Linked DNA regions of Homo sapiens. The protein of the gene in region 2 purifies or fractionates together with the protein of the main gene of each other region. This does not show direct contact. Each region holds a gene or a part of one and is shown on either strand. Other genes may lie near its edges. The genes, in order: ARPC2 and ARPC4-TTLL3.

The links.
Region 1: the proteins of ARPC4-TTLL3 (region 2) and ARPC2 purify together in Homo sapiens (affinity purification with mass spectrometry; 2 studies listed by BioGRID, with this or other methods). This does not show direct contact.

The regions. Positions count from the first base shown.
Region 1 is NC_000002.12:218,233,372-218,248,947, reverse strand, and holds part of ARPC2 (actin-related protein 2/3 complex subunit 2), read right to left. Parts: intron 14,597-15,576; coding exon 14,551-14,596; intron 10,285-14,550; coding exon 10,098-10,284; intron 9,558-10,097; coding exon 9,464-9,557; intron 3,529-9,463; coding exon 3,402-3,528; intron 3,123-3,401; exon of another isoform or gene 3,030-3,122; intron 1-3,029. UniProt on the Homo sapiens protein: Actin-binding component of the Arp2/3 complex, a multiprotein complex that mediates actin polymerization upon stimulation by nucleation-promoting factor (NPF).
Region 2 is NC_000003.12:9,818,943-9,834,518, forward strand, and holds part of ARPC4-TTLL3 (ARPC4-TTLL3 fusion protein), read left to right. Parts: intron 1-1,603; coding exon 1,604-1,799; intron 1,800-6,857; coding exon 6,858-7,006; intron 7,007-8,054; coding exon 8,055-8,298; intron 8,299-10,017; coding exon 10,018-10,453; intron 10,454-14,161; coding exon of another isoform or gene 14,162-14,594; intron 14,595-15,484; coding exon of another isoform or gene 15,485-15,561; intron 15,562-15,576. Other genes in the region: tubulin monoglycylase TTLL3, read left to right, coding at 1,604-1,799, 6,858-7,006, 8,055-8,298, 10,018-10,453, 14,162-14,303.

The DNA.
Region 1 (15,576 bases), on a different chromosome or scaffold from region 2:
GGTGCTGAAATAGAGTAAACCTTCCCAGAAAACAGATGCCAGAGAATTTCCCATATTCTCACTGTGAAAACAGACAATAAGGTGTAAGGACCTGAACCCTCATGATAGGCCAGGCAGGAGGAGCTGCTCTGAATGGGCCTGACTGAAGTCCACCCTGTGACACCAGCCACCTAAAGACCTGTGTGAGGCTGGGCGCGATGGCTCACGCCTGTAATCCCAGCACTTTGGGAGGCTGACGCAGGCTGATCATCTGAGATCAGGAGTTTTGAGACCAGCCTGGCCAACATGGTGAAACCCCATCTCTACTAAAAATATAAAAATTAGCCACATGTGATGGCGTGTGCCTGTAATCTCAGCTACTTAGGAGGCTGAGGCAGGAGAATCGCTTAAACCCGGGGGGTGGAGGTTGCAGTGAGCCAAGACGGTGCCACTGCACTCCAGCCTGAGTGACAGAGCAAGACTCCATCTCAAAAAAAGACCTGTGTGCTCATCACAAAGTCCTTTGCACTACAGCAGGCCTGCATGCCCCTCTTGCCCTGGTTTTCTGGAATCGTTTTTACCTGCTGCACCTCCTCTACTCACTATCTGCAAAACCCCGTCAGTTGTCTGAAGTTTTCGTTGAAATGAAAAGGAATGCCTCCTAAGGAAGTGTGGAATTTCTGTGTCAATGTGCCCTGGCCTGAAAGTAAATGAACACCACAACAGAAGACAACTATACTTCAAAGAATCTAAGGTGCTTATGACTGTAAGTCTGCCATAATTTTATGTACCACAAGAGAAACATGCTGCCAATTAAAGTGTGACATGCTATGAATTGTAAGATGCATCCCAGCTTCAAAGACAAAAACTTGAAAAAAATGGTATAGCTGGCTGGGCGCAGTGGCACACGCCTGTAATCCCAGCACTTTGGGAGGCTGAAGTGAGTGGATTGCTTGAGGCCAGGAGTTGAGATCAGCCTGGCCAACATGGAAACCCTGTTTCTTTTTTTTTTTTTTAATTTTTTTTGAGACGGAGTCTTGTTCTGTCGCCCAGGCTGGAGTGCAGTCGCGTGATCTTGGCCTATTGCAAGCTCCGCCTCCCAGGTTCACGCCATTCTCCTGCCTCAGCCTTCAGGGTAGCTGGGACTACAGGCACCCACCACCACGCCCAGCTAAGTTTTTGTATTTTTTGTAGAGATGGGGTTTCACTGTGTTAGCCAGGATGGTCTCGATCTCCTGACATCGTGATCCACTTGCCTCGGCCTCCCAAAGTGCTGGGATTACAGGCGTGAGCCACCGTGCCCAGCTGGAAACCCTGTTTCTACTGAAAATACAAAAATTAGCCGGGTGTGGTGGCACACGCCTGTGGTCCCAGCTACCTGGGAAGCTGAGGCACGAGAATTGTTTGAGCCTGGGAAGCAGAGGTTGCAGTGAGCCGAGATCACACCACTGCACTCCAGCCTGGGTGACAGAGAGAAAGAAAAAAGAAAAAAGTGTATAGTTTAGATTTAATGAAATTTGGTAAATCAACAGATTCATCACCAATAAACAGGTTCACCTTTACCACTGAGGTGAATTAAATTACATTTCACAAAGGAGACATTCCAGTGGCATTGGGTGCAGTGTGAACAAGCTTATTAATTCCAAACTGTAAGCTATCATAATCAGCCAGTGCATGAGGCTGGAGCAACTGAAGGAAGACCTGAATTTATTCCGCGAAAAAGTGGAGTAAGTGGATCACGGCTGGAGCTTGGGCTTAATAAGCAAAAAACCAAGAATTGCCAAATGACAGAGAACCCCCATCTAGCTGCTTAGGTGGTTCTCTTCTTAACTCCTTTTTTTGGTGAGATAGGGTCTCACTCTGCCACCCAGGCTGGAGTGTAGTGGTGCCATCACAGCTCACTGCAGCCTCTACCTCCTGGGTTCAAGTGATCCTCTCACCTCAGCCTCTCAAGTAGCTATGACTACAGTCATGCACCACCATGCCTAGTTATCTTTTTTTTTGAGACAGTCTCCCAGGCTGGAGCGCAGCAGGATGATCTCGGCTTGCTGCAACCTCCACTTTCTGGGTTTAAGCAATTGCCATGCCTCGCTTGCCCGAGTAGCTGGGACTATAGACTATAGGCACATGTCACCATGTCCAACTAATTTTTGTATTTTTAGTAGAGGTGTGGTTTCACCATGTTGGCCAGGTTGGTCTCGAACTTCTGACCTCAAGTGATCTGCTCGCCTTGGCCTCTTAAAGTGCTGGGATTACAGGTGTGAGCCACTGTGCCTGGCCCCTTGCTTTTTGTAGAGATGAGCCTGCACCATGTTATCCAGGCTGGTCCCAAACTCCTGGACCCAAGTGACCCACCAACCTCGGACTCCCAAAGTGCTGGGATTACAGGTATGAGCCACTGTGCCCCGCCTATCCTTTACTCTTTTCTTTTTTCTTTTTGAGACAAGGTCTCACTCTGTCATCCAGGCTGGAGTGCAATGGTGTGATCTCAGCTCACTGCAACCTCCGCCTCCTGGGTCCAAGGGATTCTTGTGCCTCAGCCTCCCGAGTAGCTGGGATTACAGGCGCACACCACCACGCCCAGCTAATTTCTTTGTTATTTTTTTGGTAGAGACGGAGTGTTTCACCATGTTGGTCAGGCTGGTCTCGAACTCCTGACCTCAGGTGATCTGCCCATGTTGGCCTCCCACAGTGCTAGGATTACAGGCGTGAGACACCGCACCCAGCCTCAACTCTTTTTTTTTTTTTTTGGAGACAAGAGTCTTGTTCTGTTGCCCAGGCTGGAGTCCAGTGGCACGATCTCAGCTCATTACAACCTCCACCTCCCGGGTTCAAGCAATTCTCCTGCCTCAGCCTCTGGAGTACCTGGGACTACAGACGTGCGCCACCATGCCCAGCTAATTTTTTTTTGTATTTTAGTAGAGACAGAGTTTCACCACATTGGCCAGGATGATCTTGATCTCCTGACCTCGTGATCCACCTGCCTTAACCTCCCAAAGTGCTGTGATTACAGCCATGAACCACCGTGCCCAGCCAAAACTGTACTTGTCTCCTTCAAGCTGGAATCGAACCAGCAACCTAAGGACGTCTCCTACTGAGGAAGTAGCTATAGTCCTCTGCTCTACCAGCTGAACTATTGAAGGGACCTTAACTCTTGATATCAGAATTCAGTCTTATTTTTAAGATTTAAGAAAAATGGGGAAAAAAAGGAAAGGATTACTGTACAAAAATAGCATATGGCCTGCTCTGTAATTAATACCCTGTGACATCCCTCCTTTAGTCACTGCAATGGCAACAGGAACAAGTTGGTATGCCTGCGTTTGCCTACCTTAAAATGTTAACCAAGGTTCTGTGCAGATTTAGGTATTCTGCTGTGTGAACTCATTAAAGCGGCACAAAAGCAGCAAGTGCACCCTGCTCACCAAAGGTAATGTAGCCAATGTTGTCACCCACAGCGGCGTCTGTGTCTTTCAGCTCCAGAGGAGGTTCCCTGTGGCTAAAGAGGACCTGTGGGGCTGTGTGGCTGGCTCTGCGTCCTTCTTTGAACTCCTGCCAAGACAAAGCAAAAGCAACCAGAAGAGAAGTGGGTGTAAGATGAGTGGCAACTCAAGCTATAGGGTTTGTTCTATGTGGTGTGACCTTTGTAGCCCTCCAGACCAGCAGGAGGTTAAAAATAAACTACACCAAACCTGAAATATGACAAGTGCTAGCTGCTACCACTACACTTCAGATTCAAACGGGAGAGACTGCAAAGTACTTAATAAGTCAGATCTTCAAAATGTGATGAAAAGTAGTGATAATCCTTTTCCTTTGCACTAACATAGGTGATAAACTACCATACTTTCTCTGGGCTCTGGGACTTTGCATGAGTCTTTTTTCACTGAGGATCCTGTTGCTATTTAGAATTCATCAATAAAATCTTTAGAGCAAACTTAAGCTCTTCTTGCGGACAGAAGACAATGGAATGAAAGAAGCTGAGTTGTCTTGGTGCTCATAAAGGAAGCCCTTCCTTCTATGTTCCAATCTCCAAACCTGAAGCTTCTACAGTCCATACATTCCTATGTAAATAGACAAGTAATACAAGGCTTCTCTCTCTCAGCCAGATCTGCAAGAACAGAAGTAGATTTTCTAGCAATGCCAGTAAAACTGGATAATCCAAATTCATCAAGTGGGCCTTCCAAGATGATAGACAGCAGGAGGATGCTGCCAAGGACTCTCCAAGGTCTCTTGTTTTAGGAGTTCTGAAGGCATGGTTACACAGCCATGTGGCCTGCGTGCCCTTCTACTGCTGCTCAAATACTGCCTCCTAATACCATCTCCAACAAACCCAGGCAGGTACTGCTCTCTTGCTGGAGCTGCCATGTCTTTTCTACAAACCTCTACTATGATATTTTACCATTCATTAATGTATCTGGCTCCCCTACCAGGTTATGAGTTCAAATCAAAGATCCTGCTTAATTTATCTTTGTAATTTATTCTTCTGTCTTTCAAAGAGGCTATGCAGCACATGCCTTGCTGAGAGAAAGCAAGTGCTTCTACCCTAGCTGGTTTAGTATCATCACACTGTACAGGAATAGGCAAGGGCTGTTTCCAGTTGCAGGCAGGAAGAATAAACACTGATTAGCAAGCCCTCTCGACAATTAGTGGCAAAAGAAAGATGATGGCTGAGGAGCCCCAATGCCCAGCCTGGGACCTCACCTATTTCACAAACTGCCTCTCATGCTAACACTACCAAGCTTTAAGTAGGAAAAGAAATGACCATCAACTGGGTTAGATTAGTCCCCTTTTGAACAGATTTTGTTCCCCGAAGGAAAAATATCCAAAAAGGAAGGGAAGGAGTCAAGATTATCCCAAATGGAAATTTCTAGAGCAAAGCTTCTAAAATCGCCCTTCTCTAGAAAACATTTTTTATTCTACAAAGGGGTTAAGAAGCTTTTTAACTTTTACTGGTTTTACTTTTCGGTATTAAGGAATTAAACAGAACAGATACGTAACTGTTGGCATTTTCTTGTGTCTGTTAAGTGTCTCCAAGGCTCTAATTCACAGGTACATGTGGTATTCACAATGAGATGGGGTATTTATAAACCAGTGGTGACTTATTAGCACTCATTAGTTTTGTATATGGAAAATAACATATTTAAGGCTCGGTCAACGATACGTTTCTGGCTTGGGCCTATTCTTTCTTTCTTTTTTGAGACAGGGTCTCACTCTGTCACCCAGGCTGGAGTGCAGTGGCGTGATCTTGGCTCACTGCAACCTCCACCTCCTAGGTTCAAGTGATTTTCATGTGTCAGCCTCACGAGTAGCTGAGATTACAGGCGTGTGCCATCATTCCCGGCTAATTTTTGGCCTTTAAAGTAGAAACAGGGTTTCACCATGTTGGCCAGGCTGGTCTCAAACTGGCCTCTAGTGATCCACCTGCCTAGGCCCCGCAAAGTGCTGGGATTACAGGCGTGAGCCACTGTGCCTGACTGGGACTATTCTTTAGATTCTCTGATGTCTTTGCTTCTCCTCAGTTCTCTCTCCTAAATAAAGCTTAAACAAACAAACACACCCAAACAGCCCTCCATCTTCATTGGCATCTTTGTTATACGTAATCAAGCAATATTGCCTTTTTACTCTCCTTCTGGCTAGGATGTCTTTTGAGCATCAGATTATTTCTCTCTTCCAAAGTACTATTTATCATAGGAAGTTCGGAATAAATCCAAATATATACAAGGCATTTAGCATATGATAAAAGTAGCATCTTAAATCAGGGGTGTAAAAAAGGAAATAATTGCCACTGGGACCACTGGATAGCCATTTAGGAAAAAAAGATCATTCTTTCATACCATACAACAAGAGGAGCTCTCAACAAATAAGAAAAAATCATGTATAAAATATGTAACTGTAAAAATACTCAGAAAATAACAGGTAAATTTCTTTATAACCTTCGAGTAGGGAAGGGCTTTCTACCTATAACTCAAAATCTAGAAGCCATAAAAGGCAAGACTGATTAATTTGATTATGTAAAAACAAACTTCCACATGGTGGAAAAAACCCCACAAAACACGGTCCAATGACAAACTGGAGAAAATATTTCAACTCTTAATCACAGATGAAAGGCTACTCTCCCTAGTATGTAAAGAAATTGAGAAGCTCAATGACCCTACAGAATAATGGGTAAAGGACATAAAGAGACACTTCATAAGAAAATCAAATGGTCTATAACATTAAGAAAAGATGTTCTGACCTCAGAACATCTTTTTATGTCATCATAAGCAGACACAGATACCACCTTTAACCTATCAGATCAGGAGAAATCCACAAGTTTACAACATACTCTGGGAAAACAGGCACTCCTCTCCATCACTGGTAGATGATAAAATGCCACTACCCTGATGGAGAAGAGTTTGGCAATGTCTACCAAAATTACTGACTTGGACTCAGTGTTCCCAGTTCAGGAAAATATCCTACAGACATACCCACACATGCAAACAGGCAGAAAGGGCCCTCAAAATACATCTTTACAACTGCCTAAGAGGCAGGTGCTTGTGTCTTTGTCCCTGAACATATAAAAACCAGTGGTTTCCACTTAACTTTTCCTGGTTATTTAGTTACTAACTTGACTTTAAAATCTTAGAATATGAAAAGAATTCTAGTTCACCATAAGCTAATCTCCAAAAGCATAATTACTGGTCCTATTGCTTTTCATGGAATAAGCATTGAAATGATGGCTTCTATCAGACATTCTCCAGTACTCAGCTGATATGCCCATACCACTAGTGTGGAGGAATACACTTCCTGTCTTTTTCTGAGAGGTAGAAAGCATCCCTCAGAGCCTGCTTGCCAAATGACAAAAGCAAGACTTGAATTCTGATCAGGCTGGATGTGCATGCTGGAAGGGAAAGGCCACAAAGGCTGGCAACAAGTAGACTAGTGACCATGAGGAACTTCAAATAGTGTTCTCAGGGTACAACTTTCTGTGCCAGGTGTCCCTCATTCTTTTTCCGAGAAATTTACAATTCCAGGCCTAGGAAAAAGTTCTATTTATTTTTTGGGAAAATCCAGCAAAAGTCCAGTTTCCGATTGTCATTTCCAACAAATTACCTAAGCCTCTGAATTTGGAAAGGGTGGCAGGGCAGATGACTTCCTGAGTCTAGCTAGCACTGCACCAGGCCAGTTACTATCCAGAGATCCTGTTAGTGCCAAAATGCAAAAGAGGCTTTGTCTTTCCTTTTAGGTAAGTGCCCTACCACAGGTACCCTGAAGGAGGCATTTAAATCATATGCCAAAAAAGAATACACAAAATTCTCCTAAGGAACAAATCTCCGGTACACTCTCCAAGATAAGATCTGTTTAAAGTATAAAAATAAGTTGTTTCCTGGAATAAAATGGAATAAGATTGGTAAAAAACCAGCCAAATCTAAATATATACTTCAGAGCTTTTAAAATTAGTTTTGTTACTCTGGATTTAGCCCAATTTCTGAGCTACTGCATTTAATTCCCCTGTCAATTCTGCATAAAAACACATGAAATGCCTCTCTAGAGGCTTACTTTTAGGACCCAAGAGATACATGTATATTTATATATTCCTTCATCAAGTTCAGCACTAGCAAATGCTGAAGTGTCAATATTCCAATTTTTCTGTATAGTGACTCCCAAACTAGTTTCTGATTAATTAGCCAAAATACAAAAGCCACTAGGGATGGAGCAGTTGAGAATATCACTTTTGAAGATTTTCCTAGCCACTTAGAAGGCTATGCAAAGTATCTTTACTGTTAAGCACAGCTGTCTTTCAACTCTATTTGGCAAAAGAGATTCTGCTTCAGAATTTAAAAATCTTTACCACCCTGCCAAGGAACAGAATGAAGGTAGTAACGTTTTCAAAAAATTTTACCATTGTACTAGATTTTGAATGCTGAGCCATCTCAGAAGAAACCAGCCTGAATGTCACTTGACCAATGAACTCTCATGTCCATCCTAGAGGCAGCAACTAACTGGCCAGCAGACTGGTACACAATGACCTGAATGCAACTACACCAAAAATCCAATTACAAAATGCCCTGCTAACTCTCAGGACTCTCTTTTTTTTTGAGTCGGAGTTTCGCTCTTTTTGCCCAGGCTGGAGTGCAATGGTGCAATCTTGGCTCACTGCAACCTCTGCCTCCCAGGTTCAAGAGATTCTCCTGCCTCAGCCTCCCAAGTGGCTGGGATTACAGGTGCCTGCCACCACACCCGGCTAATTTTTTGTATTTTTTTAGTAGAGACGGGGTTTCACCATGTTGGCCAGGATGGTCTTGACCTCTTGACCTCGTGATCCGCCCACCTCGGCCTCCCACAGTGCTGGGATTACAGGCGTCAGCCACCGCGCCTGGCCTCTCATGACTCTTCTTAAGATGAGCTTCTTGTGAGGGAAGTACTCTATGGTGACCCATCCAAACTCAGGCTCAGTCTGTCAGTTCAACAACTCTACCTGTTCATGCGTTATCTACTACCAAATAATTGGCTATACAGTCCATTCTGAAAAGACCTTAGGACCAAACCAAGAGCAGCCACCTTACTAGAAATCTGAGGAAACACAAGAGGTTAGGGTTAGGAAACCTGACAAAGTTTTAGGTCAAAGACCCCACAGTAGGAAGGATGCATAACATTCATTCATAGTTAGTATGTTTAATTCTCAACTTACCCTTTAGTTCTGTCCTGCAAAACTAAACCACTGAGAAAAAAAATATCAGGCTGGGCGCGGTGGCTCATGCCTGCAATCCCAGCACTTTGGGAGGCTGAGGCGGGCGGATCATGAGGTCAGGAGATTGAGACCATCCTGGCCAACACGGTGAAACCCCATCTCTACTAAAAGTACAAAAATTAGCTGGGCGTGGTGGCGCGTGCCTGTAATCCCAGCTACTTGGGAGGCTGAGGCAGGAAAATTGCTTGAACCCAGGAAGCGGAGGTTGCAGTGAGCTGAGTTCGTGCCACTACACTCCAGCCTGGCGACAGAGCAAGACTCCACCTCAAAACAACAGCAGCAGCAACAAAAAATATTCACTGAGTTTTGTGGGAGTTGTCTATTAAATCTTCAACAAATTCTAACGTCAAGGCTGGGCATGGTGGCTCATGCCTGTAATACCAGCACTTTGGGAGGCCGAGATGGGCATCACCTGAGGTCGGCAGTTTGAGACCAGCCTGACCAACATGGAGAAACCCCGTCTCTACTAAAAATACAAAATTAGCTGGGTGTGGTGGTGCATGCCTACAATCCCAGCTACTCAGGAGGTTGAGGCAGGAGAATTGCTTGAACCTGGGAGGCGGAGGTTGCAGTGAGCCGAGATCACTCCATTGCACTCCAGCCTGGGCAACAAGAGAGAAACTCCGTCTCGAAAAAAAAAAAAAAAATTCTAACATCAGTAGAGTTGCTAGATCTCTTTCCTACGCTCATGGTATGTTTGGGTGCAAAGGTATAAGTCGCCATGCATGGGTTTCCCCCAAGATGTCTGCTCCATACCTGCATGAACACCTTTCCAATGACCACATCGTCGTCATCCTTAAACACTGTGCTGAAGACTACTGTGACTCTGTCCTTTTTAGACTCAACATACCTGAGAGGAACAAAATCCATGAGGATAAGTACAGAATCAGAATGGGGTTTTGTCAATAACTTGATCTACAAGTACATCAGAAGGCTAAAGTCATAAATCTCTTAAATCATAATATAAAGGTGTGCCAAATGAGATGATATTTATGGTCAACAAAGTCAGTGCACAAAATGAATGCCCTAAGAGAGGCAGCAGATGGAAATTATCAGAAGTAGATTTTATTGACTTGTAAATATAACATGGACCTATGGTCACCCTGCCTGCTGATTATCCAGGCTATACTCTTAAACATGACTCAGAACAGTGGTGCCTTAAAGGAAAGCACTGGATTCTCTTTCCACCATCTGTCAGCTCTCAGTATCTGGAGAGTAGGAGGAGTGGCTGATTTCTGCCCTATCATCTACTTCCTGGCTTAAGACATTTTATGAGAAAAACATTTTCACGCAATACAGCTGAAAGTTTGACCAAGCCATATTTCTTTCAGTAAGTGCCATGGTGGTGTAGCAGCCATATCCAGGCTTCAGGACCAAATTCTATACTCACATGGTCTCATCATCCCTATAATGGATAACTGCCCTGTTCTCTCCTTCCTTGCCCTCTTCTTGGAATTGGAAGTATTTTTCAAAGACAGAGGCAAAACAATTTCGCTTCAACATGCCAGCTTGATGCACAATGGAATCCTTGGATGCCGGAAGATTTTCAAGGTCATATAGCAAAGAGACATTGTATCCTGGAGGGAAAGAAAAAACAAGAAACAAAAAACAACCCAGCAGTTACATTTAAAAAAAAAAAAAAAAAAAAAAGCAGCATACTATCTATACCAAGTAAACAGAGACTAGAGGCAACTAAAAAAATCTTTTTTCAGGTTCTATTGACATTTTGTCTCATTATCTGTACTTTTAACCTGGGTAGAATATAGTCTATTTCCATCTATCTCACAGGGCAAAATGAGGTGAAATAAAATCTTAATTTTTATAAGATTCTTGTAAATATATATAATTAATGTTAATCAAAAATTTGAATCAGTATCAAAGATGACTAATTACAAATATGTAATGGGAGAAAGTCAGAACCTGGGAACTCTGATTGGAAATGTACCCTTCTAGACACAGTTGTAAAGGAGCCACATATATTTCTCTGATAGTTTAATGTGCCAAGTATCAGTATGGCCAGCAAATGGGTAGCTTTGTGATAATAAGATAAACCCTTCTACGTGCCACTGCAAACTCTTTATGAGGTGGCAGGGTAGAAAAACCAACTACCTGTTCATACATATACCTCCCCAATAGCTTTTATTGGTATATATTGTACAATTTTTAAAACATTTTACTTCATTTGATCTCCATAACCACCTTTGAAGTCTGCAGGCTAGATAAGGTTACTGTTTTGCAGAGGGAAAAGGAGATTCAAAGAAGTGACGTGACTTGCCAAATGCAGCATGACACATAAGTGTAGGGCACTCTATTTTGAGTCGAACAGAACTGGGTCCAAATCCTAGTCTTGTCATTTTGTGACCTTAAAAAAACTGCTGGGTGTGGTGGCTCACACCTGTAATCCCAGCATTTTGGGAGGCCAAGGTGGGCAGATCACCTGAGGTCAGGAGTTTTGAGAGCAGTCTGGCCAACATGGCAAAACCCTGTCTCTACTAAAATCACAAATATTAGCCAGGCATGGTGGCGGGCGCCTGTAATCCTAGCTACTTGGGAGGCTGAGGCAGGAGAATTGCTTGAACCCAGGAGGTGGAGGTTACAGCGAGCTGATATTGCACCACTGCACAACAGAGCGAGACTCCAGCTCCAAAAAAAAAAAACAAAAACAAAAAAAATTGCCTGACTTGTTAATTTCCTCATCTGTTAAAAAAAAAAAAAAATTGGTGGTGGGGGGCAGGTAGGGTGGTCTGGGCACAGTGGCTCAAGCCTGTATTCCCAGCACTTTGGGAGGCCAAGGTGGGTGGATCACCTGAGGTCAGGAGTTCGAGACCTGCCTGGCCAATATGGCAAAACCCCGTCTCTAATAAAAATACAAAATTAGCTGGGTGTGGTGGTACACGCCTGTGGTCCCAGGTACTCCGGAGGCTGAGGCAGGAGAATTGCTTGAACCCGGGAGGTGGAGGTTGTAATGAGCTGAGATCGCGCCACGGCACTCCAGCCTGAGCAACAAGAGTGAAATTCTGTCTCAAAAAAAAAGAAAAAAAGAAAAAGGAGCAGGGCAGGGGGTGCGGAGATAGGGGAGAATGTTGTGAGCATTAAAAGAATGTTCAATACTTAAAGTGTGTGGAACATGACAGGTCATCAATACGGGTGCAGAACATGGACTGAAACCATTGGATGACCTGCCTTTTTACAGCATGTCCACTATGAATTCCCAGAAGCCGGCTGGAACACTTGATTATAGAATCAAATGATTAATAAGTGTCAAACTGCCTAGAGATGTTTTTGCAAGAATATTTCTACATCACTGAGGATCATTTTATATTCTAGGCAACTGACGGGAATAACTTCACCAGAACTGTATGGCTTTCACACTTCTAAGTATCTGAAACCTCATTACTATTTCATTTTTTCCCAAAAGCATTCCTGAGATCTGTATTTTTTTTTTTTTGAGATGGAGTTTTACTCTTATTGCCCAGGCTGGAGTGCAATGGCATGATCTCGGCTCACCACAACATCCGCCTCCCAGGTTCAAGCGATTCTCCTGCCTCAGCCTCCTAGGCAGCTGGGATTACAGGCATGCGCCACCAGGCCTGGCTAATTTTGTACTTTTAGTAGAGACGGGGTTTCTCCATGTTGGTCATGCTGGTCTTGAACTCCTGAATGCAGGTGATCCGCCCGCCCTGGCCTCCGATAGTGCTGGGATTACAGGCATAAGCCACCGCGCCCGGCTGAGGTCTGTGTTTTTTGTTGAGCATGGGCTCTTCGGGAGGATGGGCTAAATCTTTGCTCTAGATAATGCTTAGCACATTTTATTTAATACTGGAGAGGCACTCCAGTATTAAATAATATCAATCATCATTCTATTTTGGGTACTTGAAAACCAAATAAGCACACAGATTACAAGGTTAGATTAAAAAAGAAAAGATTTAGAGCTGAGGTTTGCTAGTTTTAGGAAGCCAAATAAGAGCAAATAAAACTATAGCTAAGGTAAAGTCTGTCTTTAAGTAAGGCTTCTAACATGATGAACAGAATATACTGAGGATGAAGAGAAGTAAAAATCTAGTATAACTTGCTGAGTTTTCCAAACGTGCCTAGATAAACCCATTAAAAAAGAGGAGGAGAGACTCTACGGTCTTTTTTTTTTTTTTCTCGAGACTGAATCTTGCTCTGTCGCCTAGGCTAGAGGGCAGTGGCGCAATCTCAGCTCACTGCAACCTCTGCCTCCTGGGTTCAAGCGATTCTCGTGCTTCAGCCACCTGAGTACCTGGTATTACAGGTGGCTGCCACCATGCCTGGCTAATTTCTGTATTTTTTATAGAGACAGGTATCTCATTATGCTGCCCAGGCTGGTCCTGAACTTCTGAGCTCAAGCAATTCACTCACCTTGGCCTCCCCAAAGTGCTGGGATTACAGGTGTGAGCCACTGCACCTGGTTGAGACACTACTTTCACACACTTTTACATTTCACACTTCTATGAAGACAGGGTCTGCAATCTGGCAATGTCTATGATTTAGTGGGAGGTAGAAGGAGGCCCAGGGACAGAAACATAAACTTTCCATGTCAGGATGTTGGCTGTGACAAGCATGCCCAAGACTTTGGACATGATTTTTCTGTTCTAGATCTGTTTGTTTCTTTCTTTTAATACCTTGATTTTGCCAAAAGCCTACAGTGTTATCTTGGCTTTTATTTCTGTGACACATTCATCCCGCCAATTTGGAGATTAAAAAAAAAAAAGGTGCTGGGTATGGTGGCTCATGCCTGTGATCCCAACTCTCTGGGAGGCGGAGGCTGAGGTGGGTAGATTGCTCAAGGCTAGGAGTTTGAGACCTCCTTACTCTGTTTTGGCAGTATGGGCAGCAGACAGTGAGACTCTGTTTCTACAAAATATTAAAAAAATTAATTGGGTATGGTGGCATGTGCCTGTAGTTCCCAGCTACCGGAGAGGCTAAAGCGGGAGGATTGCTTGAGCCCAAGATTTGGAGGAGGCTGCAGTGAGCTATGACTGTACCACTGCATTCCAGCCTGGGCAACAGAATGAGACTGTCTGAAAAAATAGGTGAGGTGATGAAATAAGCTAGCACAAGTAACTGCTGTTAAGAGTGACAGAGAACTTCCTTCTTAGAAGACTTTTCTAATCAAGGTACCAAAGTTGTAATAGTTGAGTAAAAAATATTATGTTCCAATGGTCTTACTACCTGGTTCTCACTTTGGGGTCCTGCTAAATGCCTCAGAATTTGAGACATGCCACTGAATCACAGGGTAAAAAGGCTGTTCAGTTTTTCCACTTTAAACCTCCTTTTTAAAGCAGTATAACATAGCTGTTCTATTCAAGGATGACACGGTGCCTTTCAATTCCTCTGGCCATGAATGTTGAGACAACCTATTAGAAGACTGGATTAAGAAAGGGTCTGATTTTTATTACTTGAAATCACAAGAATAGTGTGGTGAATATTCCTCTTCTTTCTCCAAATATGTAGTATGCAGAATTACTAAGGGCCGAGGGTGGGAATCAATGTTTGCTCATTCTTTTCAAAGCCATTTTAATCACCATGAACAAACAAATGTGGCCCTCTGGCTGAAAGATTAAGTAAGAGTCATGTGGCCCCATCAAGTAAATGTTAAAAATGTCACACATCAATTTTGTACCTCTACTGTGTTCCATATTGGACAAAGCAAAGCCCCTTAAAAGCTATTTTTATGGACGGAGTTGAAATTAGGAATGGGCTCATGCAGAAATATTTGTAATAATATTTAAACGAAATCCTTTGGGTAAAAAAAGCATAATATAAAAAGGACACCTCTCTTCCCATGTCATTCCATAGTTGCTCACATGACTACATACCTGATTCTGGATTTACCAAGAAACTCCCGTACACCCTCTTTAATAACTAGAAAATAAAAACAAAACAAAACCAAATACGTTAATCCAAAGGCCATGATAATTTCATTATTTTTAAAGTACTGCACTTGCCAAGCTCTTCCTAAGTTGGCATTCTTCCTAACTTTCATTTGGTGGATGGGAAAGTAGAGACAGAGGGGAAGTGGATTTAGTCACCAAACAAGTCACAAAACTGAGATGAGTATCTTTTTATGCCTGGGACAGAGTGCAATGGCGCGATCTCGGCTCACCACAACCTCCGCCTCCTGGGTTCAAGTGATTCTCCTGCCTGAGCCTCCCAAGTAGCTGGGATTATAGGCATGCGCCACCATGCCCGGCTAATTTTTTTTTGTATTTTTAGTTGAGATGGGGTTTCTCCATGTTGGTCAGGCTGATCTTGAACTACTGACCTTGGATGATCCACCCGCCTCGTCCTCCCAAAGTGCTGGGATTATAGGCATGAGCCACTATGCCTGGCCGAGAATCTTTAATCAAAGCTCATCCTTTTTTAGGACTTGACTACACCCTTAATATGTTCTCTGTTCTCCTCCAGATCCTACATTGTACTTAATCATGTTTTGTTTTCAAGAGAGCAAAAGGATGCCAAATTCCAAGTGAGAGAACAGATTGTTAGTTATCAACCTAAGTACAGACTGAGCCACTAACCCAGGTGAATAAAGAGAAAAAACCAGGACTCTCGGGAACTGATCTGTTTGTCTGCTGATCTTGTATGCTTTAAAATTACTCAGTGCATAGCCAGCTCTTAAGGCAAAGGACAGTCAATAATGAAATCTTAGCTAGCTATTAATACTGGTGTCCAGAAGGTTGTATACTCTCCATGTCTTTCCCCCCAAACCAGAACCTACTGCTGGCTACTTTCCAGGTTTTTGAATTAAATGAAAACAACAACAAAAAAAACCCAAAAAACCAAGAACCCCTTTTATACCTTCTGCTATGGTTTGAATGTCCTTTCGAAAACTCATGTTAAAA
Region 2 (15,576 bases):
CTCTCCCACCCATTTATCCTCCACCCATCCGCCCTTCCACCTATCTGCCCTTCTACCTATCTATTCATCCACGCACCTACTGGTTCATCCACACATCTGTGTATGATTCACATCTACCCATCTATCCATCCATCCACCAGCCATCCATCCACTCATCCACCCACGTATTCACCCACTCTCTGATCTACCGATTCACCCACCCACCCTTCCACTCATCCTTCCATCCTCCCACCTGTCACCCATTGTTAATCTCGTCATTCATCTACCTGATGTCAGCTCCATACTCCCCATCCATCTATCCACTCCCTGCCTACCTATCCTTCCACAGATCCACCTACCCATCTATCTACCTGCTATTCCATTCTCCCATCTACTACCTATCTGTTCTTCAGGCCATCCACTCATCCATTCTTCTGTCCCAGGTACTTAGACACTTGTCTTCCCATCCGTTTGTTAGTTGATCCACTCCTCATTCAGCCCTCCCATGGGCCTGGCATGTAGCCGAGCACCCTGGAGAGGGCAGACTAAGAAGACATGGTCCGTCCCTGCCTGTGAGGAGTTCAGGTCTCTGAGGAGGAGGAAGCAGTGAAACTGGGCTTTACACATGGCCTGAGAACAGCTTAGGCCTGAACATAAGGAACAGCTTGGAGTGGAGGGGACACAGAGGAACCCTCACTATCATGCATGCCAACCCAACCACTGCCTGCCCTTTCCCTTCTGGATTTAGCTCGTGTCTCCAGGCTCCTAGTCCTGTAATCCAGGGACCCATCAGCGAGGGATTCAGGGAAGCAGAGGCAGCTCTCCAGGAAGGAGGAAAATCCCTGCCTCTTCCAGAGAGACTCCCCCATTGCTGTCTCTTGTGTGTGTCATGCACAAGGAAGGCTTGGTTGTGTGCCAGGATAAGGGGCACAAGGGCCTCGGGTGTGGCCAGAGACCCCATGCTTAAGCTTTTATGGTATAGGTCAGGCTGCAGGGGTTTGAGGGCCTCAGTTGTATATCAGAATCTTCAGAGCACTGCGATGTTCAGGGGTGAGTCAGGTCTGTAGATGTGCACGGGGTCTTCTGAAGGGTCAGTTTCTGTAATCACTTTCAGGTGTGTCAGGGCCTTGTGCAGTAACAGTGCACACAGAAGTTAGTGTTTCTGTGGGCTAAGGGTTGTAGCTCTGTATCAGGATTCTGGGAGTGGGTCTGGATTTCTGGTGTGTGGACTTAAGAAGCTGTGTCAGACTTGGGGGAGGGGCGTTCATGTATAACTGGGTTCACATAGGCCAAGACTCCCAGGTGCATTTTAGGCAGAGCCTCAGGTGTGTTAGAGGTCCCAGGGGCAGAGAGGCTATAGGTGCTGTCAGAGGCCTTGGGGACATTTAGGGCAGAGCCTCGAGTGACAGGTCCTGGGACAGTGGGAGCCAAGGGCAAGTGCTAGAGTTGCAGTGAATTTAGAGCAAAGCCTCAGCTAAGTGACACATCCCAGGGCAGTAGGGGATCTATCTAGGTTCGTGCTGGGCCTCAGGTAAGTGACAGGCCTTAGGACAATGGGGGCTGTGGCATGCGTCAGGTTACCTGCCTTGATATGGGATCGTGACAGGCCCCTCCCTATGTGCAGGAGACAAGCAGCCCAAGAAACAGGAGAAAAACCCAGTGTTGGTGTCCCCAGAGTTTGTGGATGAAGCTCTGTGTGCGTGCGAGGAGTACCTTAGCAACTTGGCCCACATGGACATCGACAAGGACCTGGAGGCCCCGCTGTACCTCACCCCCGAGGGCTGGTCCCTCTTCCTCCAGCGCTACTACCAAGTGGTCCAGTGAGTCCCCTGCAGCTGGGACTTTGGGCTGTGGGCAGGTGCTTAGGGATAGACCCTTTCTGTCTCGTGCAGCCCCTACCCCTTCCCCAAGCCTCCCGCTCGTTTACCCCGCTGTTCTGCTCAGGAACCCTCGAGGACTCCCACTGCCTCCGTGATAGGGTCTGGGCCACTTTTCTTGGTTCTTGGCATAGCATAGTCACTAAGAGCATGGACTGTGCCACCAAATGGACAGCACATTACCCAAAGTGTGTGTTGTGTGGATGTTAATTCTACAGGAAGTAAATAGATTTTATGAAAAAAGGGCTTTTGTGGTCCATCACATTTGGAAAACACTGGATTAAGCAGTTAAAGAGGCTTCCCTGGGGCAGTACTCTTCAGAACCTGTGGGTGGTGTAAGCCTATAGAGAGAGTGCGCTGCTTATCCTGTACTTAAGTGAGCCCAGTGCCCTGCCTCCCACCAAGCATCCTGAGGGGCAGTGTTTTCTGAACACACTTTGGAAGAAGGTTCTTAGGTGGGGAAAGGGAGGATCAAGGTGAGCCTGGTGCTGCTTTAGGGAGATTCCATTCGGGAGAAGCATGCAGGAGCAACTGGAGGGAGAACAGCCCTGAAGGCAGAACACACAGTAAGCATTTCTTGAGCAACTCCGATGTGCCAAGCATTGTGCCAGGTTCTGAAATGAAGCGTAGCCCCTGTTCTCAACTGGGACACAGCTCAAGGTTTGAGACCTGCAGGAAGCCAGGTGGGAGTGCTAGGAATCTCAGCTGGGGTGGTGGTAATGGGAAGAAATGGATAGATTTAATTACTCAGTAGGGGAAACCGAAGAACTAATGAATGACATGAGCAGCAGATCCACATCATTAGCACGTAATTCACTGCATCTTTTCTAAATGCCAGGACATAACTCAGGTGGCCCGGTACTTTCTCTTTAGCTACTGGAAAATGTAAAGCTGCCCATTTTAAATTAAGAATTATCAAGGTGGCCAAGCGTGGTGGCTCACGCCTGTAATCCCAGCACTTTGGGAGGCTGAGGCGGGCAGATCACTTGAGGTCAGGAGTTCAAGACCAGCCTGGCCAATATGGCGAAACCCCATCTCTACTAAAAATATGAAAATTAGCTGGGCATGGTGGCGCACGCCTATAATCCCAGCTGCTCAGGAGGCTGAGACAGGAGAATCGCTTGAACCTGGGAGTCGGAGCTTGCAGTGAGCCGAGATCGCGCCACTGTACTCCAGCCTGGGTGACAGAATGAGACTCCGTCTCAAAAAAAAAAAAAAAAAGAATTTTCAAGACTTAGAACATTAGTCATGAAGCACGAGTCCCTTTTTTTTTTTTTTTTTTTTTGAGACAGAATCTTGTTCTGTTGCCCAGGCTGGAGTGCAGTGACGTGATCTCGGCTCACTGCAACCTCCACCTCCTGGGTTCATGCGATTCTCCTGCCTCAGCCTCCCGAGTAGCTGGGATTACAGGCGCCCACCACCACGCCCGGCTAATTTTTTGTGTATTTTTAGTAGAGATGGGGTTTCACTATGCAGGCCAGACTGGTATCGAACTCCTGACCTCGTGATCCGCCCTCCTCAGCCTCCCAAAGTGCTGGGATTACAGGCATGAGCCACCGCGCCCGGCCATGAGTCCTTTTTATTTCTGGTGTGTGGGGGCAAGTTCTGGAGGGCTATAAGAACCTCTCTAAAGTCGGGATTACATAAAACATTGCATCATATAACAGACATACACAGTGTTGAATGGTTCAGTACAAATGACCAGCATTCATTCATTCCCTCAATATTTTATTTTATTTTTTTGAGACAGGGTCTCACTTTGTTACCCAAGCTGGAGTGCAGTGGCGCAGTCTTGGCTCACTGCAACCTCTGCCTCCCAGGCTCAAGTGATTTTCCCACCTCAGCCTCCTGAGTAGCTAGGACTACAAGTGTGTGCCACCAGGCCTGGCAAATTTTTGTGTGATATACATATATCGTTGTATGTATATATTATGTATTATATATATTATAATATATATAATACATAATATATACATATATATATATATTTTTTAGAGACGTGGTTTCACCATGTTGGCCAGGCTGGTCTTGAACTCCTGAGCTCAAACAATCCGCCCGCCTTGGCCTCCCGAAGTGCTGGGATTAACAGAGTGAGCCACTGCACTCGGCCTAATTCATTCAATATTTAGTGTTAATGCTTCTCAACTTTTTAAAAAAAACAATTCCACTTGGGGCGGTGGCTTATGCCTATAATCCCAGCACTTTGGGAGGCCAAGGCTGGCGGATCATGAAGTCAGGAGTTCAAGACCAGCCTGGCCAATATGGTGAAACCCCATCTCTTCTAAAAATACAAAAATTAGCAGGGCCGGGCACGGTGGCTCACGCCTGTAATCCCAGCACTTTGGGAGGCCAAGGCGGGCAGATCATGAGATCAGGAGATCGAGACCATCCTGGCTAACATGGTGAAACCCCATCTCTACTAAAAATACAAAAAAATTAGCTGGGTGTGGTGGTGGGTGCCTGTAGTCCTAGCTACTCGGGAGGCTGAGGCAGGAGAATGGCGTGAACCCAGAAGGCGGAGCTTGCAGTGAGCCGAGATCGCGCCACTGCACTCCAGCCTGGGCAACAGAGCGAGACTGTCTCAAAGAAAAAACAAACAGCCAGTTTTTTTTTTTTTTTTTTTTTAAATCCTGGATTTTAAGAACTAAGCCAGCCAGGTTTTCATCAGGCTGACTTTTCATTAAAATACTGTTTTTTTTTTCTTTTTGCTAACTATAAAATCATATTGTCATGTCGAATATACTTTTTCAAATTACGCTCCTGTGTGATATTTTCCTGGGCCACATCACAGATTACTGAAAAGATACTTCATGCTACGGACCACAGAAAAGTTTGTCAGGACATAGGTGTGAGTACTCCTGGGAGACCTTGCCTAGCCCCCTGCATCTGGCTGTCCCTGTTCCTGGCACTGCCCCAGTGGCTGCTGCCTCCTCCTTAAAAAAGAGAAAGTTCTCCATGACTGGAGACACTCAAGATGCTAAGATGTCACAGAGTTAGCTTCCCCTGAACAGGAGGCTCCCGTCCTATTCAGTCAGAAGGAAAGAAATGCGAGAGTCTGGATGAGGCAGCCATCTGGGGTATTTTGTGACTTGGTTTAGTTCAGGACATTTTCTGTCTTGTAGAGAACAGGGTCCCTCTTTGTCCATGAAACCCTGTCCGTGCAGCCCAGTTGCTGAGGCAAGCTCCTACCAAAGTACTTGCTGAGCCAACCGTTCATTCATTGAGCAAACTTCCAGGGAGTACCTGCTGAGTGCCAGGTGTGGTGCTTGGGGATGGGGATTATAGCAGAGAACAACTACAGAAAATGTTCCTGCTCTTACGGAGTTTACATTGTAGTTAGGGGATTCAGACAATAACCAAATAAGCACATGTGTTAGGTGGGGGTAGATGATGGGAAGAAAACAAGCAAGAAGAGGTGTGATATAGAAGTGCTTGAAAGGAATTAGGCTAACATTGTTTCAGCCAATATTAGGCACAGATTAAGACAGGAATGAACCCCAAAAAGCACCTGTGGGTGGAGGAATCAGACAGGACAGAGTTTGAATCCTGGCTGAACCACTCAACTTTCAGTGTATGGCCTTCGGTAAGTCCCTTAACTCTCAAAGCTTCAGTTTACTCTTTTTGTTTTTTGAGATGGAGCCTCGCTCCGTTGCCCACACTGGAGTGCAATGGCGCGATCTCGGCTCACTACAACCTCCGCCTCCTGGCTTGAAGTGATTCTCCTGCCTCAACCTCCTGAGTAGCTGGGATTACAGGTGCCCACCACCACACCCGGCTAATTTTTGTATTTTTAGGAGAGATGGGGTTTCACCATATTGGCCAGGATGGTCTCAATCTCTTAACCTTGTGATCCGCCCACCTTGCCCTCCCAAAGTGCTGGGATTACAAGCGTGAGCCACTATGCCCGTCCCAGTTTACTTTTTCTTTTCTTTTCTTTTCTTTTTTTTTTTTTTTTTTTTTGAGACGGAATCTTGCTCTGTCGCCCAGGCTGGAGTGCAGTGGTACGATCTCGGCTCACTGCAACCTCCGCCTCCCTGGTTCAAGTGATTGTCCTGCCTCAGTCTCCCAAGTAGCTGGGATTACAGGCACCTGCCACCATGCCTGGCTAATTTTTGTATTTTTAGTAGAAACAAGGTTTTGCCATGTTGGCCAGGCTGTTCTCGAACTCCTGACCTCAGGTGATCCGCCTGCCTCCGCCTCCCAAAGTGCTGGGATTACAGGCAGGAGCCACCGTGCCTGGCCCAGTTTACATTTCTCTAAAATGGGACCAGAGCTGGGTGTGGTAGCTCATGCCTGCAATCCCAGCATTTTGGGAGGCTGAACAGGAGGATGGCCTGAGGCCAGGAGTTCAAGACTAGCCTGGGTAACATAATAAGACCCATCTCTGCAAAAAATAAAAATTAGCTTGGGTGTGGTGGCGTATGCCTGTAATTCCAACTACTTGGGAGGCTGAAACTTGGACCTAGGAGTTCCTGGCTGCACTGAGCCGTGATTTCACCACTGCACTTCAGCCTGGGTGACAGACCAAGACCCTGTCTCAAAAAAAAAAAAAAAAAGTCGGGGGGTAGGGGGTGGGTACTAGTAATACTTCCCTGGCAGGGCCTTGAGGGCATTCGTGAAAATATATGGAAAGCCCTTGTCACAATGCCTGGCACATAGTGGTGCTTTATCATTAGGAACTGGAATGATTAAATTCTGTCAAAGACAGTTTTAATGTAATAGGAAGGGGGTGGCACAGGTGGAGTGTTGGAGTAGGGGGTGGTTTGCAGTTAATGGAATTTTATCAGCCTTTCCCATTTGTGTAGTCTGGGCAGGTTAGGATTTCCGGGGTGGCTTGAAGGTGGGGCCGGAGGCTTGGGAGGGACCTATGGATATCTGCAGGGAGGGCGTGACCAAGGCTGCCTGGATGACGGCGGGGGATGGTGGAATATATCTCCCCCTGCCCTCTCCACCTGCATGTCCCAGGTCCAGCCCTGCCCAAGTTCTATCATTTCCCCACAGCGAAGGGGCAGAACTCAGGCACCTCGACACTCAGGTCCAGCGCTGTGAGGACATCCTGCAGCAGCTGCAGGCCGTGGTACCCCAGATAGACATGGAAGGGGATCGCAACATCTGGATCGTGAAGCCAGGAGCCAAGTCCCGCGGACGAGGTGGGGGTCAGCTCCTGCTTCCTGCACTGGCACCTCACCACCTGCATCTACCAGTAGAGGCCAAGGAAGTTAATAGTGCAGGTCTATTGAAGCCAAATTGCCTGGGTTTGAGTCCTAGCTCTGCTACTAATGTGCTTCGTGACCTTGAGCAGGTTTTAGCGCCTCCCTGAACCTCAGTTCCCTCATCTGTGACATGAGGAGGATGATAATACCTCCTGTGAGGTGAGGATTAAATGCAGTCATGCAGCTAAAGCACTATTCCAAATCCTCAACGTGCTTCAATTTATGCAATCCTGGGAAACGGAGGCACGTGTAGGCTTTCACATGATCCAGAAGGATATCCATAAGGTCCTGGAAGCAGCAGTTGGCTGCCTCTAGACAAGGAGATACATTTTTTATTGTATGCCCTTTCGTACTGCCTAATTTTTGTTTTGTTTTATAGTCTATTTATTATTGGTAGGAACGTAATAGGTGCACATACTTTAAAAAAGCCCCCAACACTGGCCAGGTACAGTGGCTCATGCTTGTAATCCCAGCAGTCTGGGAGGCCGAGGCGGGTGGATCACTTGAGGTCAGGAGTTGGAGACCAGCCTGGCCAACATGGTGAAACCCTGTCTCTACTAAAAATACAAAAATTGGCCACGTGTGGTGGCAGGCACCCATAATCCCAGCTACTCGGGAGGCTGAGGCAGGAGAATCACTTGAACCCGGGAGGCGGAGGTTGCAGTGAGCTGAGCTCGTGCCACTGCACTCCAGCCTAGGTGACAGGGCTGTCTCAAAAAAAAAAAAAAAAAAAAAAAGTCCAGCACTTTAAATTTGTATCCATGTATGTATTCCTGTTTAATCAAACAAAACTGGTTAATTAGGAAAAATTTAAAATCCTTAGCAAATTCCTGGCTTTCCCAAAGGGAACTGGGTTCTGATTGAGGGAGACAGCCTTACCCACTCAGCCCTATCAGCTCCGAGGGGACAAGAGCTCATGACAAGCTGGCCCTTCTCCTGGCCCACGCCTGACCTTCCAATCCCTGACTGCCCTCTTCCCCCGTAGGCATCATGTGCATGGACCACCTGGAGGAGATGCTGAAGCTGGTGAACGGCAACCCCGTGGTGATGAAGGACGGCAAGTGGGTGGTGCAGAAGTATATTGAGCGGCCCCTCCTCATCTTTGGCACCAAGTTTGACCTCAGACAGTGGTTCCTGGTAACTGACTGGAACCCACTTACCGTGTGGTTCTACCGCGACAGCTATATCCGCTTTTCCACGCAGCCCTTCTCCCTGAAGAACCTGGACAAGTGAGCCCCTCTGCTCGCCTCCCACGAGCTCCCTGCCTAGTTGGGGAGCTGGCAAGCAAACAGGCGATTACAGTGCAGGGGACTCGCGCAGCAGCGCTAGGCTCCACACACAGACTGCAGGCAGGCAGGCCCTCATCCTGCCAGCTGTCCTTGCATCCAACAGATTTTTTTTTAACAGACAGGGGGCGGTCTCACTCTGTTACCTAGGCTGGAGTGCAGTGGCATGGTCACGGCTCACTGTAGCCTTGACTTCCTGTGCTCAAGCAATCCTTCCTCCTCAGCCTCCCAAGTGTCTGAGACCACAGGCATGTACCACAGCTGATTTTTAAGTTTTTTAATGTAGACATGGGGTCTCACTATGTTGCCCAGGTTGGTCTCAAACTCCTGGGCTCAAGCGATCATCCCACCTTGGCTTCCCAAAGTGCTGGGATTACACTATGCCTGGCCCCTCCAACAGATTTGACCGAGTGTGTACCTTGTGCCATGCACTGTTCTGGGCACTTGGGGTATAGCAGTGAACAAAACAAGATCCCAGCTCTCAAGGGCTTACATTCTAGCAGGGAGAAACAGGCAAGCAAGAACACAAGTGAAATTATCTAACAGGTTAAAAGATTATTTGGGCCAGGCGCAGTGGCTCATGCCTGTAATCCAAGCACTTTGGGAGGCCGAGGTGGGTGGATCACCTGAGGTCAGGAGTTCGAGACCAGCCTGACCAATATAGCGAAACCCCGTCTCTACTAAAAATATAAAAATTAGCCGGGCGTGTTGGCGGGCGCCAGTAGTCCCAGCTACTCGGGAGGCCGTGACAGGAGAATTGCTTGAACCTGGGAGGTGGAGGTTGCAGTGAACTGAGATCGTGCCATTGCACTCCAGCCTGGGTGACAGATCAAGGATCTGTCTCAAAAAAAAAAAAAAAAAAAAAGATTATATTTGTCGTTGGGGGAAAAAGGGAAGCAAATGTAGAGCAGGGGAAAGGAGGTCAGGAGTTTTGAAAACTAAGATGTCGTGTTAACTTCTAGGGTGAGAGAAAGCCTTGTTAAAGCCTGAATTCCAATTCTGTCTCTGCAGCTTCCAAGTTGTTTGAATCTGGTCATGTGAAAACCTATTTAAGCCTTGGTTTCCACATCTGAAGAATGGAGGCAGTAGTATGAAATTCATAGCTATCAATTATTGAGTGCTTCATATGTGATAGTGCTGAGCACTTTGTATACATGATCTCATTCTTAATAAGAACCCAGTGCATACTTCTTGTTCACCAGGTCTGAAGAAAAATATAAAAAACAGTGAAGTGGGTACTGTTACTACCCCCATTTTGCAGATGTGAAGAGCACACAGGTTAGATGACTTCCCTAAGGTCTCACAACTAGTGTGGAGATGGCGCTTGAACACGTCCTGGCGATGACGGGGCCATACCCTTACCCACCCTCTTATCTTCCAGACACTGGGATGGTTAACTGAGACTATGCACAAAGCACTTACTACTGCGGCCCCCGTAACTAGCGCCCTCAGAGCAGCCCTGAGAGATAAGAGTGGTTCTGGCCCTAGAAGAATGTGGTGGGGCCCAGGCCTCTGTCCTTTTTGTCCTTCCCAGTAGGGCCCCATCTCAAGTTGAATAGTGCAGGGTGGCCCAGGGCTGCTTCCAGGACTTGCCTGTCCTCCCTGAGTTTGGATGGGAGAGACACAAGGGCCTGGACCTCAGTTTTCTGTTCTCTGCCCCAGCTCAGTGCACCTGTGCAACAACTCCATCCAGAAGCACCTGGAGAACTCATGCCATCGGCATCCACTGCTTCCGCCAGACAACATGTGGTCTAGCCAGAGGTTCCAGGCCCACCTGCAGGAGATGGGTGCCCCAAATGCTTGGTCCACCATCATCGTGCCTGGCATGAAGGATGCTGTGATCCACGCACTTCAGACCTCCCAGGACACCGTGCAGTGTCGGAAGGCCAGCTTTGAGCTCTATGGCGCTGACTTCGTGTTCGGGGAGGACTTCCAGCCCTGGCTGATTGAGATCAACGCCAGCCCCACGATGGCACCCTCCACAGCAGTCACTGCCCGGCTCTGTGCTGGCGTGCAAGCTGACACCCTGCGCGTGGTCATTGACCGGATGCTGGACCGCAACTGTGACACAGGAGCCTTTGAGCTCATCTATAAGCAGGTGAGGAGGTTGGGCCCAGGCAGGACCCCAGAGAGTCTGCACCCTCTTCCAGGCAGCCCTGCAGTGGAGCATAGGACTCTGCAGTCAGACCCAGTTTAAGACCCAGATTCAAGTCCTGGTCCTGCTAAGGTGACCTCACTTCCTTGAGCCTCAGTTTCCTGATCTTTGAAATGGGGATATTATTACCATCTTTCTCATGGGAATGGGAGAATAAAATGAATTCATGTATGAGGATAATATTTCTAGAGAGGCATATAGCATAGCCATAAGAGCAGAGATTCTGGAATCTCCTTGGGTTCAAATTCCTGTTCAGTGACAACAAGCTATGTGACTTTGGACAAGTTCCTAACCCCTAGGTCTCCTTGTCCGTAAGAATAAAAATAGTACCTAACTCACAAAGTTAGGTACTATGAGTTGTGAGAATTAAATGAGTTGATAAGTAAAGTACTTCATTTATTTATTTTTGAGACAGAGTCTCGCTCTGTTGCCCAGGCTGGAGTGCAGTGGCATGATCTTGGCTCACTGCAACCTCTACCTCCTGGGTTCAAGCGATTCTCCTGCCTCAGCCTCCCAAGTAGTTGGGATTACAGGTGCCTACCACCACGCCTGGCTAATTTTTGTATTTTTAGTAGATACAGGGTTTTGCCATGTTGGCCAGGCTGGTCTCGAGCTCCTGACCTCAGGTGATCCGCCCACCTCGGCCTCCCAAAGTGCTGGGATTACAGGCAGAAGCCACCGTGCCCAGCCAGTAAAGTACTTTAGAATAGTGCCTGGCACGTAGTAAATGCTACTAAGTTTTAGCTAATGTTATTATTACCTAATAAGGTTAGGAGTTTCATCATGTATAACCTGTAAAGTGCCTGAATGTATAGTAATAGGCAATTACTGGTAGCTACTATTATTAGTAGTATTATAATTATTTCACTCGTCTTGCTCCAAAAAGAGATTGGAGTCTACTTGTAAAATAGAACAGCATTTTAAAAAATCAGTCAGAAAATTGATTGCAAGGCTTTCTGAGTTCTGGATAGAATTTCTTGTGGCAGTTTAAGTGGCTTCTGATTAGCCTCCGGTTTCTGTCAAGGTTTGGTTACAGGAAGAGAACGTACTGATCACATGACCTAAGTGACCTCGCCTTTGTTACAGTTGTTATTGATCATTTCTTAAATTAATATATTGGCGTTTTGGTTTCAAAAAATGTAAACGGGGAAATACATGGGCAGGAAAATATGAGCAAGCTGAGGGAAAAGGTGCCATTGTAGTGCAGTGCTCCCAATGCCAGTGCCCAGGCCAGAAGCATCTGAAAGCTTCTAAAGGTATGGATGTGAGGAGGCTCCACCCCCAGAGATTGACCCAAAATGTCTAGCTTGGGGAGGAGACTATGTATATCTGCATTTTTCAAATGCCCCCCAAATATCTTTTTTTTTTGAGACGGGGTCTTGCTCTGTTGCCTAGGCTGGAGTGCAGTGGCACCATCTCGGCTCACTGCAAGCTGCGCCTCCCGGGTTCAAGCGCTTTTCCTGCCTCCGCCCCCTGAGTAGCTGGGACTACAGGTGCCTGCCACCATGCCCGGCTAATTTTTTGTATTTTAGTAGAGATGGGGTTTCACCATGTTAGCCAGGATGGTCTCGATCTCCTGACCTCGTGATTTGCCCGCCTCGGCCTCCCAAAATGCTAGGATTACTGGCATGAGCCACCGCGCCAAGCCCTCTAAATGTCTTTTATTGCTGATTTGTTCTTGTTTTTGTTTTTAGGCCAGCACATAGTAAAGGCTTATACCTTGCACTGTTTTTTTTTGTCTCTTTTCATCTAGGCCAGCCCCAGTGCCTTTTGACCCCATAGTTTTGATCTTTTGAGGGGCCAGGCGGGTTGTTTTGTAGAACTGTCCCACATTCTGGATTTATCTGATTGTTTCCTTATGGTGTGATTTACCTTGGTCTTCTGTTAGCTGATTGTCTCAGGAACTAGAAGTTAGGTCAAATAGTTTGATGAGGTTAAACATTTTTCCCAAGAGCACTTCAGAGGTGATGCCGCGTACCTCATGTGGCATCACAAGGCACATCCTGTGAGAGTGTCTCACAGTTAGTGCTGCTGAGTTTGACTGTGGGTTACAGTGGTGGCTACCAGATTCTCTCCATTATAAGCTACATCTCCCCTTTGCAATTAATTTTTCTGTAAGGTGCTGTGTTGGCTCTGTCCAGATTACACATTTTCCTGTCATCCTTTCATCTAATTGTTTTGATACCAGTTTTGATTATTGCCTATTTTATTAGAGTTGCAAAATGGCAAATGTCTAATTCTGTTGTTCCTTCTGCATTTATTAGCTGAGATTCTTCTGTAAAGATGAACTTTCCCTCATCATCTGGGGCTACTTGGGAGTGCTGATAGCTACATTTTTATTTGATTTTTTTTTTTTTTTTTTTTTAGACAGAGTCTCACTCTGCCACCCAGGCTGGAGTGCAGTGGTGCTAGCTCGGCTCACTGCAACCTCCGCCTCCCGGATTCAAGTGATTCTCCTCAGATCCCGAGTAGCTGGGATTACAGGCGCCCACCATGGCCGGCTAATTTTTGTGTTTTTAGTAGAGATGGGGTTTCGCCATGTTGGCCAGGCTGGTCTCCAATTCCTGACCTCAGCTGATCCGCCTGTCTTGGCCTCCCAGAGAGCCACCGCGCCCGGCAATAGCTGCATTTTTTTTTTTTTTTTTTTTTTGAGACGGAGTTTCGCTCTTTTCACCCAGGCTGGAGTACAATGGTGCGATCTCGGCTCACTGCAACTTCTGTCTCCTGGGTTCAAGCAATTCTCCTGCCTCGACCTCCCGAGTAGCTGGGATTACAGGTGCCTGCCACCATGACCTGCTAATTTTTTTGTATTTTTAGTAGAGACAGGGTTTGGTTATGTTGGCCAGGCTGATCTCGAACTCTTGACCTCAAGTGATCTGCCAACCTTAGCCTCCCAAAGCTCTGGGATTACAGGTGTGACCACCATGCCCGGCCAATAGCTGTATTTTTAACAAGCTCCAAGTAATTCTGATGTTTAGATAGATTCTGATCAGGATCCTTCAGTGGCACAGAAGATACCTCCAACTGGCTCCAGGTTGCTAGCAAGGCACAGGGAGCTCTCCTGGAGCCCAGCTGAGGGCAGGACATACAGCTTGGCCTGATAGGAACTGAGAGTTGTAAGGGAGTCCCTCTCCTGGACCCTTCTCTCTGCCTTCCTCTGCATATTCGTTACTTCATTCTCTCCACAGACTGTCTTCTTTAAGGTTCTTAGTTTCTGCTACCCCATAACCTGGATTCACACGAGGCTCTAGGCAGGCTCCAAACCTCTTACTTGTCTGGGTGGCGTAACTCAAATTCTCTGTGCAGAGAATCTGATTGGCTCAGCTCAGGAAGCTGTCCACCAGCAGTGGCCTGTGCAGTGGAGCCACACGCATTCCAGCAGGGGCTGGGGGCAGCTTAGGAGGGAAATGTGGCTGAGGGGTGCTGGTGGGACATGGCTAGGATTCCCCCTTCCTCTGGGCTAGCAATTCCTGGAGCTCTGTGACTCTAGGTACTGACTCAGAGGTGGGCTTTCCATTTCTCAGCTCAGAAACGCCTCTTTGACCAGGTGCCTCAGAAAGTAATTCCACCCATCTCTACTCTGGGTCCCGCTGGGCCAAGGATTCCAGTACCACTGACTGAGTGGGCCTTGTCTCCTCTTCTTGCCCACAGCCTGCTGTGGAGGTGCCTCAATATGTGGGCATCCGGCTCCTGGTAGAGGGCTTCACCATCAAGAAGCCCATGGCGATGTGTCATCGGCGGATGGGGGTCCGCCCAGCAGTCCCTCTGCTGACCCAGCGAGGCTCTGGGGAAGGCAAGGACTCGGGGACCCCTACCCACAGGTCAGCTTCTAGGAAAGGCACTGGGGCCAGGAGCCTGGGGCACAGTGAGAAGCCAGTCTCCACTGCCACCACTTCAGCCCCCGGAAAGGGGAAGAAAGGCAAGGCGAAAAGGGCCACAGCCCTGGTCTGCCCCAATCTCTGGGAGTGGGATGCCCCCAGCACCAGGATGGGCTGCATTTTCACCATGACCTTTTCTAGTGGGGACAGGCAACCCCACCACTTGAACAGATTGCCACTGAGTCCGAAGAACCCCCGGGCCCTGGGTAAGACCATTCCCCCAAAACACCCGAGTGTTCCAAGGCGATTTATTCCTGCTCTCCAGGCCCCTCCCAACCACCTGGATCAGCCACCCCACCAAAGAGCCACCAGTAGCAAGTAAAAGCCACTACTCACAAAGTATTGTTTAAAAATACACAGCCAAATTAGCTGGGCACGGTGGTGTGAGCCTGTGGTCCAGGCTACTCGCGAGGCTAATGAGGATCGCTTGAGCCCGGGAGGTTAAGGCTGCAGTGAGTTATGATCGCACCTCTGCACTCCAGCCTGGGAGACAGAGCGAGATGCTGTCTTAAAAACAAAGACACAAAAAAAGCACTTTGGGAGGCCGAGGCGGGCAGATCACTTGAGGTCAGGAGTTCGAGACCAGCCTGGCCAACATGGTGAAACCCCATCTGTACTAAAAAATACAAAAATTAGCCGAGTGTAGGGGCAGGTGCCTATAATCCCAGCTACTTGGGAGACTGAGGCACGAGAATCGCTTGAACCCAGGAAGCGGAGGTTGCAGTGAGCCGAGATTGCACCATTGCACTCCAGCCTGGGCAACAAGAGCAAAACTCTGTCTCAAAAAAAAAAAAAAAAAAAAAACCCAGCCAAATGAGTATTGTCTCCTCCAAAGTAGTCACTCTGCCTCACAGAGTGACTTATTTCAAAGATGACCTGATTTCAAAGATGCCAGGACTTAAGCCCAGGTTGCTCTCTCCAGCGCCCACGCTTTTCCCACTGCAGTATTCTGCCTTTGCCTTCAAGCAGTCACCTCTCGGGGAAAGAACTAACACATGTCCAGCACTTAACAGTTTGCCCCATACCGCTACCTGCCCAGCTCCTTTAGTGTTTACACCAACCTAGCAAGGTAGGTGCTATTATCCCCATTTTCCAGCCGAGGTATCAGGAAGTTTAAGGAAGTTGCCCAAGGTTGCACAGCTCAGAAGGGGCACAGCTGGGATGCAGACCCAGGTCTGTTGGACTCTA